Homo sapiens: one gene and its partners. The protein of the gene in region 1 purifies or fractionates together with the protein of each later gene. This does not show direct contact. Each region holds a gene or a part of one and is shown on either strand. Other genes may lie near its edges.

Evidence for each region. The genes of interacting proteins can lie anywhere in the genome.
Region 2: the proteins of ANKLE2 (region 1) and NUDT4 purify together in Homo sapiens (affinity purification with mass spectrometry, with the first as the bait; one large-scale study listed by BioGRID). This does not show direct contact.
Region 3: the proteins of ANKLE2 (region 1) and NUDT11 purify together in Homo sapiens (affinity purification with mass spectrometry; one large-scale study listed by BioGRID and IntAct). This does not show direct contact.

The regions. Positions count from the first base shown.
Region 1 is NC_000012.12:132,734,333-132,737,832, forward strand, and holds part of ANKLE2 (ankyrin repeat and LEM domain-containing protein 2), read right to left. Parts: intron 2,889-3,500; coding exon of another isoform or gene 2,881-2,888; exon of another isoform or gene 2,744-2,880; intron 2,734-2,743; coding exon 2,561-2,733; intron 1,181-2,560; coding exon 1,074-1,180; intron 244-1,073; coding exon 53-243; intron 1-52. UniProt on the Homo sapiens protein: Involved in mitotic nuclear envelope reassembly by promoting dephosphorylation of BAF/BANF1 during mitotic exit.
Region 2 is NC_000012.12:93,391,425-93,394,924, reverse strand, and holds part of NUDT4 (diphosphoinositol polyphosphate phosphohydrolase 2), read right to left. Parts: intron 317-3,500; coding exon 206-316; intron 1-205. UniProt on the Homo sapiens protein: Cleaves a beta-phosphate from the diphosphate groups in PP-InsP5 (diphosphoinositol pentakisphosphate), PP-InsP4 and [PP]2-InsP4 (bisdiphosphoinositol tetrakisphosphate), suggesting that it may play a role in signal transduction.
Region 3 is NC_000023.11:51,489,511-51,493,592, forward strand, and holds the end of NUDT11 (diphosphoinositol polyphosphate phosphohydrolase 3-beta), read right to left. Parts: intron 2,240-4,082; coding exon 2,239-2,239; 3' UTR 501-2,238; downstream 1-500. UniProt on the Homo sapiens protein: Cleaves a beta-phosphate from the diphosphate groups in PP-InsP5 (diphosphoinositol pentakisphosphate), suggesting that it may play a role in signal transduction.

The sequences.
Region 1 (3,500 bases):
CGGCCATGGGGGGCCCCTCCCAGCTGCCACAGCCACGCCTGCACATGCTTACCAGACGTGGTGGCTTTATCTCGGCAGGAGGCTTCCCGTTCTCCTGTTTCTTGTTGAGCCTTTTTGCCTATTTCCTGCTGTGTGAGATATTCTTCTAGTCTTTGCAGGCCTTCCTGGGAAGACAGATCAACAAAACAGCCCAGAAATTCCCAGTATTCAACCCAGGGATACCCCAGCTCATGAGCTAGCTCCCTGTAAGAAACAAAACACAATTAACCAGCTGTGAAACCAGAAAAAATACTCAGAACTACACAGAAAAAAGCCACTAAAGCTTCAAGTACCAAAGCAATGTCTGCAATCATGGTTATAATTTTCCTTTATCCTTAACTGGCAGCTGAAATCATACGGTGCATTTTCTGAAACAGCACGCCTCCTCACAGGTAAGCAGGACCCGGCACAGCTCTCAGGAGCCGTGAACCGGCTGCAGGCAGGAAGGAGGCCTCAGCCCGACAGACCCTCACGCCAGCAACCCAGGTCACACAGTTCAACTCCCACAGACGGACGTGTTCATGATCACGGAACAGCCCTGTGAACTTGCCCGTGGTTCTAGTCATGGCCAGGCACACGAAAGCCTGGAGGTCCTTTCTGGGTTCCAGTTGTACACCTGACACTGGGCACATATTTTGAGAAAATATTCTAAACAATTCCACGAAGCTTTATTTGATTACAGCATAATTTAGCTTTGTGGCTATGGCCTATTTTTTCCCAAGGAATCCATAGCATTATATGGTACCTTCTATAAAATATTAAGGTTCCTTAGAAACATGTCCCAGAACCAACAAGGAATTCCAATTAGAAAAGGAAAGGAAGGCACTGCAGACATCCCCCAGGTCTGGGACGGGACTGGCTTAAGCTAGAATTCCACAACATCCACAAGGAATTAGACCTTCACGAAAAGGACCAAGTCTCCCAGAAAAGCCTTCTGGAAATTGGTACTTTGAAGCTGTGATTTGACCTTCTGTCATTAATCAAAATGCAACCAACTGTGTGCCCCACGCTGCTGCGGCTCAGCCTTTCAGTACCTTCCCACTCTCTCAAAGCCTCTTTCCGGGTCCGACTTCTTGACGTGGTGAAGGAAGCCTGCTTTCTCTCGAGGTGGAGTTTTCCAGAGCTTGCGAAAATCTTCTGCCTATGAAGAAAAAAAAATGTATTGAGCCGTGTCAGGCACTGCGCCCCTCAGCTGCGGAAACCTGAAGAGCCGTCGTCATCGCAGTAGCTGCCTGTCTCCGCACACCCTTCCTTCTCTCCCCTTCACTAGCAGATCCCTGGGCCACGTGCCCACCTGTGGCATGGCTGAGTGGCCGCACGGCTGCACTCTGACCTGGGGGAGGGGAGGCGGTCTCCTTTCTTGCAGCCCCGTCTGGGCTGTGAGGTTCAGAACCAGGAGGGCCCGAGCACGAGGCCTCACCCTGAGGACAGTGGACGGCTCGGAGCTGCCACCCCGACGCACATGTGACACTGCTCCCATCGCAGGAGAAGAAACCAGATCTTTCTCAGTCACTCTCCCTAGAGCTTTATGCTTTATGCATCTCACCTAACCTTACCTGATACCACCTAATTTTGGGGCCATTTTCTTTTTTGTTTTGGAGACGGAGTCTCGCTCTGTCGCCCAGGCTGGAGTGCAGTGGTACGATCTCGGCTCACTGCAAGCTCCACCTCCGGGGTTCAGGCCATTCTCCTGCCTCAGCCTCCCGAGTAGCTGGGACTATAGGCGCCCACCACCACGCCCGGCTAATTTTTTGTATTTTTAGTAGAGACGGGTTTCACCGTGTTAGCCAGGATGGTCTCGATCTCCTGACCTCGTGATCCACCCGCCTCGGCCTCCCAAAGTGCTGGGATTTCAGGCATGCGTCCCGGCGCCCGGCCTGGAGCCGTTTTCATCGCAACTGATTTAGAAAGTTTCTAGCACAGGATGGTGCGTGCAGGTCAGTGTGTGAAGTATTCCAACAGGAGAAAGAATTGTCAACTGTAAATAAAAAAGTGTACAACCTTTGACCCAGCAACACCACCATTAAGGATTTCTCTGAACACTGGGGATGAGTAGAACCTGGGGCTGAGGCTTCCAGGAGAGGGACTTGTCTGAGAGGAAGCCAGCGGGGGCTGCAGCCACAGGGAAACGTGGTCAGGAGGTGGACGTGCAGATGGAGCTTTCCTAGTCACAACGGGCAGCCTCGCTACACCAGCAAGGTGCCTAGGACGGGCCATCAACACAGCAAGAACAGGGCGACACGCGCACAGGACGGGGCTGGCCCAGGGAATGTCTGCTTTGTTGAGACAGTGGCTCCCAGCACATCGGCCCTGGTAAGCAAGCCACAGAGCCAAGAACACACATTTCTCTGACAAACGTTCTCATCACCAATCACTGGTGGATGGTTTGAGATGAGGACAACCTTGGGGCTCCACAGGACATGGTCCCTGAGACCACGCACAAGGCAACAGGCTGGAACACCCAGCAGCACAGTATAGGGACAGCCAGGCACCACTTCCAGAAGCTTCTACAGCAGCTCACCTTGGCTGGACTCAGGGGCCCTGCGAAGGCTCTCAGGGTCAGTACCGGGTCTCTGGGGCTGCCTCCATAGCGGCTGACGTGAGAGGCCTCAGCCGTCTGGTCTGGGGACCACAGCTCCCCGATGACTGGAGAAGAAGTCTCTTCCGCTCTCAGGAGGGGCACGTAGTAGTGGCCTGAGGGAGGAGACAGGCACTGGCTGCAGGCTTCCGCCCCCTCCGCAGGTCAGGCCTGGGTGAGCAGGACGGGGATCACGCGAGCCCTTGCCAAGGCCTCTGCAAATGGATCCAACAGACGGGGCAGAGGGTGGTTTCCGCCAGAGCTCACTGCACTTAATGCAAATGGATACAATGGAAACAAAGTCACACAAGGTCTCAGAGCTCACTTCACTTAACCAGCCTCATTTTCCTCCACTGCTACAAGAAAAGAAAGAAAAGAAAAGGAAGCCCCAGGTAGTTAAAGGACTAAGGGGTCGGACCTGAGTGAATAAGAGTAGCACACAGTAGGAGCTTAATACATTTTAAAAATGTTATATTTCATTCCAGCCGGGTGCGGTGGCTCACGCCTGTAATCCTACCACTTTGGAAGGCTGAGGTGTGTGGATCACCTGAGGTCAGAAGTTCAAGACCAGCCTGGCCAACATGATGAAACCCCATCTCTACTAAAAATACAAAAATTAGCCGGGTGTGGTGGTGGGTGCCTGTAACCCCAGCTACTCATGAGGCTGAGGCAGGAGAATCACTTGAACCTGGGAGGTGGAGGTTGCAGTGAGCCGAGATCACGCCACTGCACTCCAGCCTGAGCGACAGAGTGAGAATCTGTCTCAAAAAAACAAAAAAAAGTAATATTTTATTCCTTCTCTCCTTTTTTTCTCCTCTTAGTTTCAGACAGAGTCTCATTCTGTCACCCAGGCTGGAGTGCTGTGGTGCAATCATGGCTCACT
Region 2 (3,500 bases), about 39 Mb from region 1:
GTGAGCCAAGATCGCTCCACTGTACTCCAGGCCTGGCAACAGAGCGAGACTCCATCTCAAAAAATAAAAAAAAAAATTAAAATTAAAAATAAAGTTGCATCAGGCAAAAAGCACTCCTGGACCCGTCTCGCTGTCTTAGTGTTATGTAGCAAAGGGCCTTGTTTTTAAAACTCCGAAACAGAATTTGTGTGAAAGAACATCTCACCTCCTCATAAACTTCCCTCACGGCAGCACCGCCAGGTTCCTCCTCGGGTTCCATTCCTCCTCCTGGGACAATCCACTGGTCTGGGTACCGGCTGCTACTCACCAGCAGCACCTGTAAGGTGAACCATAACTGTATACTTCCAGCCTGAGAAGCACTTCGTATATAAACAACATTCTCAAACCTCTGCAAGGTTATAACTCTATTCTAGATTAAAATATTTTAAAATTTAATTAAAATTAGGGGGTACGCATTACACCACAAAAATGCAATTGACAACCTTTGTTAAACACCATCTTTCTGAAATCAGAATTAACATTAACATGGTCACACTACCAAATCACCTTATCTAATGAAATAAACTACTGGTGGTAAAACTCTCAAATTATTGGATAATAACAAAGGATAAAAACAGAAACTTGGCTGGGCGCGGTGGCTCACGCCTGTAATCCCAGCACTCTGGGAGGCCGAGGCGGGCGGATCAAGAGGTCAGGAGATCGAGATCATCCTGGCTAACATGGTGAAACCCCAAACCCCGTCTCTACTAAAAAAATTAGCCAGGCATGGTGGCGGGCGCCTATAGTCCCAGCTACTTGGGAGGCTGAAGCAGGAGAATCGCTTGAACCCAGGAGGTGGAGGTTGCAATGAACTGAGATCGTGCCACCATACTCCAGCATGGGTGACAGAGACTCCATCTCAAAAAAACAAAAAACAGAAACTTGGCTTATTAGCCAGAGTTGTATGCACTGAGGTCTATGGTCACATAAGTTTATTTAGTTATGGAATATTCCAAATTTAAGGAAATGACCATAGGTAGGTTACCTTGTTTCCTCACCTAAAAAATAAGAATACTAAGAAGATAACAGATGTGTGAGAAAGAAATAGGGAAATGCACATAAAGACGATTCTTGATACAGAGTGCTTGTTACTGTTATGATTAGGTGGCAAGAAGCATCCTTCACATTTTAAACCTGCATACATAGGCAAAAGTCACTTCATTCTTCTAACAGGCAGCTATCATTTATGATCTAGAACAGGACTGGCAGTCTGCAGCTCACCACCTGTACAGTCTGTGAGCCAGAAGTATTTTTACATTTTAAAATTATGTGAAATTCAAATTTCAGTGTCCACAGATGGAATTATTAGAATCGAGTCACTTACTCATTTTTACATATTGTCTGGTTGTTTTAATGATGCAACAGCAGAGTCAAAGCAGTTGTGACAGAGACTGTGTGGCCCTCAAAACTTAAAATGTTTGTCTGGCCCTTAATTTGGAAGTCTATGGACCCCTTACCAAGAATAGCATTAAGATTGAAATGTGGCCGGGCGTGGTGGCTCACATCTATAATCCCAGCACTTTAGGAGGCCGAGGTGGGCGATCACCTGAGGTCAGGAGTTCCACACCAGCCTGGACAAAACATGGTGAAACCCCGTCTTTACTAAAAATACAAAAATTAGCCAGGTGTGGTGGTGCATGCCTGTAATCCCAGCTAATCGGGAGACTGAGGCATGAGAATCACTTGAACCTGGGAGGCGGAGGTTGCAGTGAGCAGTGAGCAGAGATTGCACCACTGCACTCCAGCCTGGGCAACAGAGCAAGACTCCATCTCGGGGAAAAAAAAAAAAAAAAAAGACTGAAATCTACAAATTGTTACAAAAATACCCTATTACCTTAGACAAGTATCCTAGATTTTATTTAACAGGTAACAGGTATTACATACCCATCTTTTAAATGAATATCTGGCCGGGCGCAGTGGCTCATGCCTGTAATCCTAGCACTTTGGGAGGCTGAGGTGGGCAGATCACCTGAGGTCAGGAGTTCCACACCAGCCTGGACAAAACATGGTGAAACCCCGTCTTTACTAAAAATACAAAAATTAGCCAGGTGTGGTGGTGCATGCCTGTAATCCCAGCTAATCGGGAGACTGAGGCATGAGAATCACTTGAACCTGGGAGGCGGAGGTTGCAGTGAGCAGTGAGCAGAGATTGCACCACTGCACTCCAGCCTGGGCAACAGAGCAAGACTCCATCTCGGGGGAAAAAAAAAAAAAAAAAAGACTGAAATCTACAAATTGTTACAAAAATACCCTATTACCTTAGACAAGTATCCTAGATTTTATTTAACAGGTAACAGGTATTACATACCCATCTTTTAAATGAATATCTGGCCGGGCGCAGTGGCTCATGCCTGTAATCCTAGCACTTTGGGAGGCTGAGGTGGGCAGATCACCTGAGGTCAGGAGTTCAAGACCAGCCTGGCCAACATGGTGAAACCCCATCTCTACTAAAAATACAAAAAATTAGCCGGGCGTGGTGGAAGGCACCTGTAATCCCAGCTACTTAGGAGGCTGTGGCAGGAGAATCACTTGAACCTGGGAGGCGGAGGTTGCAGTGAGCCGAGATCATGCCACTACACTCCAGCCTGGGCAACAGAGCTAGATTCTGTCTCAAAAAAAGGAAAAAAAAAAGGGGGGGGGGGAAACAAAGGAATATTTGTGGGCTAGCTTAGGTTGAACTTCACTTAAGTTAAAATCAACTCAAGGTGAGCGTGGTGGCTCATGCCTATAATCCCAGCACTTTGGGAGGCTGAAGTGGGTGGACATCTGAGGTCAGGGGTTCAAGACCAACCTGGCCAACATGGTGAAACCCTATCTCTACTAAAAATACAAAAATTAGCTGGGTGTGGTAGCACATTCCTGTAGTCCCAGCTACTCAGGAGGCTGAGGCACAAGAATTGCTTGAATTCAGGAAGCGAAGGTTGCAGTGAGCCGAGACTGCACCACTGCACTTCAGCCTGGGCAATGGAGTGAGACTCTGTCTCAAAAAAATAAAAAATAAAAATAAATAAGTCAATTTGAACAAAAGTGTCCACAAAATTATCTTAGTATACTACCTTCAAGTAAATTTAAACAGTTCTCCCTCGAAAACACATAGGGTTTATCACGAAGTTTAATTCCCAGTGTGCATAGAGATGATGATGATAACTAAGACAGGGTCTCACTTGGACATCCACGTTGGAGTGCAGTGACACAATCTCTGCTGACTGCAGCCTTCACTTCCCGGGCTCAAGTGATCCTCTCACTCCAGCTTCCCGAGCAGTTGGGAGTACAGGCACCCACCACCAGGCCTGGCTAATTTTTGTACTTTTTTTTTTTTTTGAAATGGAGTCTCGTCCTATCATCCAGGCTGGAGGGCAGTGGCATGGTCTTGGCTCACAGCAACCTCTGCCTCCCGGGTTCAAGTGATTCTCCCACCTCAGCCTCCAAAGTAGCTGGGATTACAGGCACCTCCCACCAAG
Region 3 (4,082 bases), on another chromosome or scaffold:
ACATGCAATCCAATTATACTTTTAGTCATTTTTTAACGTACAATGAAATTATTGACCATAGTCACCCTGTTGTGCTATCAAATACTAGATCTTATTCATTTTTTATTTATTATTTTGGAATTTTAAAAATTTTCTGAAATTGAGATGAATTAATTTTGTAGTCAGAAAAAACAAATTCAGTGCCCTTTTTTAAAAAGGTAAATAGTAGAATGAGTGTCCCAACTGGAACCTAAACTTATGTCCACCACTAGGGTTTAAAGTTTTCCGGTAATGTGTGACATACTGAAGGGGATAAAGTCCTTTGGCATGTAGAACTGGGGGCTTTGCAAGGAAAAATTCACACTAACGGAAGAGCAGTCTGCAAACAAGTTTAGCTCAAGAACAAAAGCTAGGTTTTCGGAGAGGAGGAATCAATCTTTCTGGGCTGTGGATCTGTCTTCTGATCAGCCTTCTGCACTTAAGTCTAGGAGAGAGGGGGCCTACAAGTAAACTCTGAAGAATACTTTTTTCAATTTTTATTATGGAAAATTTCAAACATATACAAAAGTATAGAGAATAGTATAATGAACTCTCAAACATCCATCACACAGCTTCAGCAATTACCAATTTATGGCCAATCTTGTTTCATCTATGTACTCAATTACCCCACACTCAGATGATTTTGAAGCGAATACCAGTAACATATCATTTCACCTGTACATTTTTCAGTATACTTCTCTAAAAGATAATCATTTTTTAAAACAACATAACCACAGTACCATATCACATCTTAAAAAACAATAAATCAAGAAGTTATATTTTTATTTCAAATTATGTAACAACTGGGGACACAATCAATACATTTCACTGGTATCATGAGGAAGAGTGTCACACTAAAATGGAGTCCAAGCTTTTATCGATGCAATTGCTTTATAATATAAAAGAAAAAATCAAACAAACTAGCATATTAGAACCACTTTTGGTAATTTGTAAGGAGCTGAAGACTGCTGATATCACACATCCCATGGCAAACTCCGTAAGATTTCTTCTAAACATCTTTGTTATTTTCTTAAAATTGTTCTGGAGGCAGCTGATGCAAGTCCTCTTTTTTAAAAAAACCTTCACTTTGTGTTCCCCTCTAATAGCAGCCTCTTTCCTAAATGCCTTTTCTAAATGACAACAATTTTGCCCTCTCTCAGCCCTCTGCATTCTCATATGCAGAAACCAGGTAGGATGAGGAGCTAGCTGTGTGTACTGGAAAAGGGATGAAAACTACAGCCAAATGGATCAGTGAGAGAGGCAAAAGAAATCTAGACAAACTAAATGGCATAATTAAGTTTGGAAACTGCCTATGATATAGCCTGTTGGCTCTGGCATCAAATAATACAGTATGTTAAATCTGTAAAATGAGGAAACAGTGTTTCCTCAAAGAGATGTTAAGATGACATGTAAGAAGTGGTTAGGGCAGGCATTGCAAAAAAATGTCTTATATATCATTTTAAAATTTATTTTTATAAAAACTCACAACATTATTTTGCGTCCACTGTATTTATTTTTACAATTACCTTTATAGCAAGTGATAGTTTTTGAATAAAATTTAAGCAAATCATCAACAGTACAAAAACACTAGAGTTGTTACACGAAGGACTGATTCTACAAAACATTACCCTAGGTGATGGCATAATCTTAAAACTGTGCAGCTACTGTGTGGTATGACATAGAAATAGGAGTAATAATTCTTGTCCTCAAACATCTTACAACTGTCTTGAAATATTTCTGAAACACCTGATACACAAAAGCCACACACATGGTGCCTAGATAGCATATACTCTACTAGCACCAGATTGGAAGGGGAATGTTTTGCCACACGGTGATTACAAAATATTAATTGAATCAAAGAACCTTCAGTGATGCCAACCATATTTCAAGTAGTGTCTCAGATGCAGAATATGCAAAGAGTAAGGAAAAATAGTCTTTGCTCTCAAAGACATCATAGTCTAATGAAGGCAGACACATCAAAAAAGCACAACAAAAGGCTATAGGTGCTGAATTAAGAGTCTATTCACGTATAAGAGTACAACAACCAGAGCAAGAGTCAGTGGTATAGACAGGGAAGGAGTGTCCCAAGATGCAGGAAGAAACCAGATGAGCTGTCTTCTTGGGAACACAGAAGTGCTCACCTGTACTTGACAATTCCACTGATCACTGGGTTCACATCAATGTTTCTTTCAGCACAATACTGAACATCTTTGCTGTTCATCTGGAAAAACAAACCAACACACAATTAGCAGGCTTATGTTAATAATTCCTCCAACTGACAAATGTACCAAGAGCTTATTATGTACATCAATCACTTTGCATCAAGCACTTCACTTCCACAGAATTATCTAATGCAGATGCAATCAATGAGTCTGGATCAGCAACTGAGGGGTTATAAGCCAATGTATACCATGATGTAAAAAAGTCAGGAAAGCAGCGATATCAGAAGTTTTGTAAAAGAGGAGTGACCATTTAAGACATAAAATATCCTAAATTCCATGTTACAGACTCTAGACTCATGGAAATAATTCAGGCTGATTCCCACCCACGAAAGAGTTTTCAGTCCAGTGACCACATGGCCAAGAAAACAGATTAAGTACAATAAACTCTGCGAACCATGACACAGAAGAGGGTTTCTTAACCCAGGTGGTCAGGAAAGGCTTCTCATTGGAGATGTTTGTAAAGTGTCTATTTTTACTATCTCCAACAACAGATTTTTTTTTTAAACTGAGCGTCAGATAGTTAGATAACTTGGCTTAAGTTTCAGTGAGGAAGAACTGGAACTAGATCTGTCTGACTTCAAACCCCCAATGTAGTTTCTATCACATCATGCGCTCACTCTTTTTTTTTTTTTTTGAGACGTAGTCTCACTCTGTCGCCCAGGCTGGAGTGATCTTGGCTCACTGCAACCTCTGCCTCCTGGTTTCACGAGATTGTCCTGCTTCAACCTCCCAAATAGAAGGTATTACAGGCACGTGCCACCATGCCTGGCTGATTTTTGTAGTTTTACTTCATTAATAATTAGAAGTAGAGTTGGGGTTTCGCCATATTGGCCAGGCTGGTCTCCAACTCCTGACCTCAAGTGATCTGCCCACCTCGACCTCCCAAAGTACTGGGATTACAGGTGTGAGCCACCATGCCCAGCCCATGCTCTCTTATTCTTATAAAAGTGTTATGTTTTAGCACAGTCAGCATAGTAACTTCCACTTCTTATAGTGCTGTTTGCCCAAACATATTTAAAATCTGCTAAATACCATTAGTATTAATAGCTATCTTATCAAGAGACCACTACCAGGAAAATATTGTTTAAAGTCTTTCAGAGAGTACCTGGTGGCTCCCCCACAAGGGAATTCTAGAGGTGAAAGCTCTGCCAGGCAAATACACATTTTCTAACTGTAAACAAATTGGCATTCTTATACTAACCTTCTGAAATGAAATCACAGAAAGAATTTAAAACCTTTACATCAATTGTTGCAAATGAATCTATGCAAATAAAGCAACAAAATTATTTTCGAGTTTCTTCCCTTTAGTTTGTTTCTTTAAAGTGTAGTCAACAGATTTTGTATCTAAACACACACATACTTCTTGAGAAAAACTGTATATATTATAGACACAGCACCAATTGTTTCCAGTATATGCATCTATATTAATGTTTCCTCTTTATATATTCACAAGAATAAAACACTTGACCAGCTGAAAATGTAAGCTATTTATAAAACATGCAGAAAATAAATCTGATTCATGTCTGCAAACCTCAATTGTCTGTGTACTCTTTTTCCTTTCTTTATCAAGACAGGGCTGTAAAATTTAGGTGTACATTTTTCTGCTATCACAAAAGAAATAATGTACAAGTGAACTCTACTACTCTTAGAAGGAAAAAAATCTCAACTATACATCAAATTTTGGAGCACTGAAGTGGCAGAAATTTTCTATATACTACCTCTGTTCTAAAGAAATGTGGTGCCACTGTTCCGAAAACAAATCTTATAACACATTTAAGTATAGGTAAACAAAGTACAAATCTCAGTTTTTCAAAACATTTTCTGTACTAATGCTTTTAACTT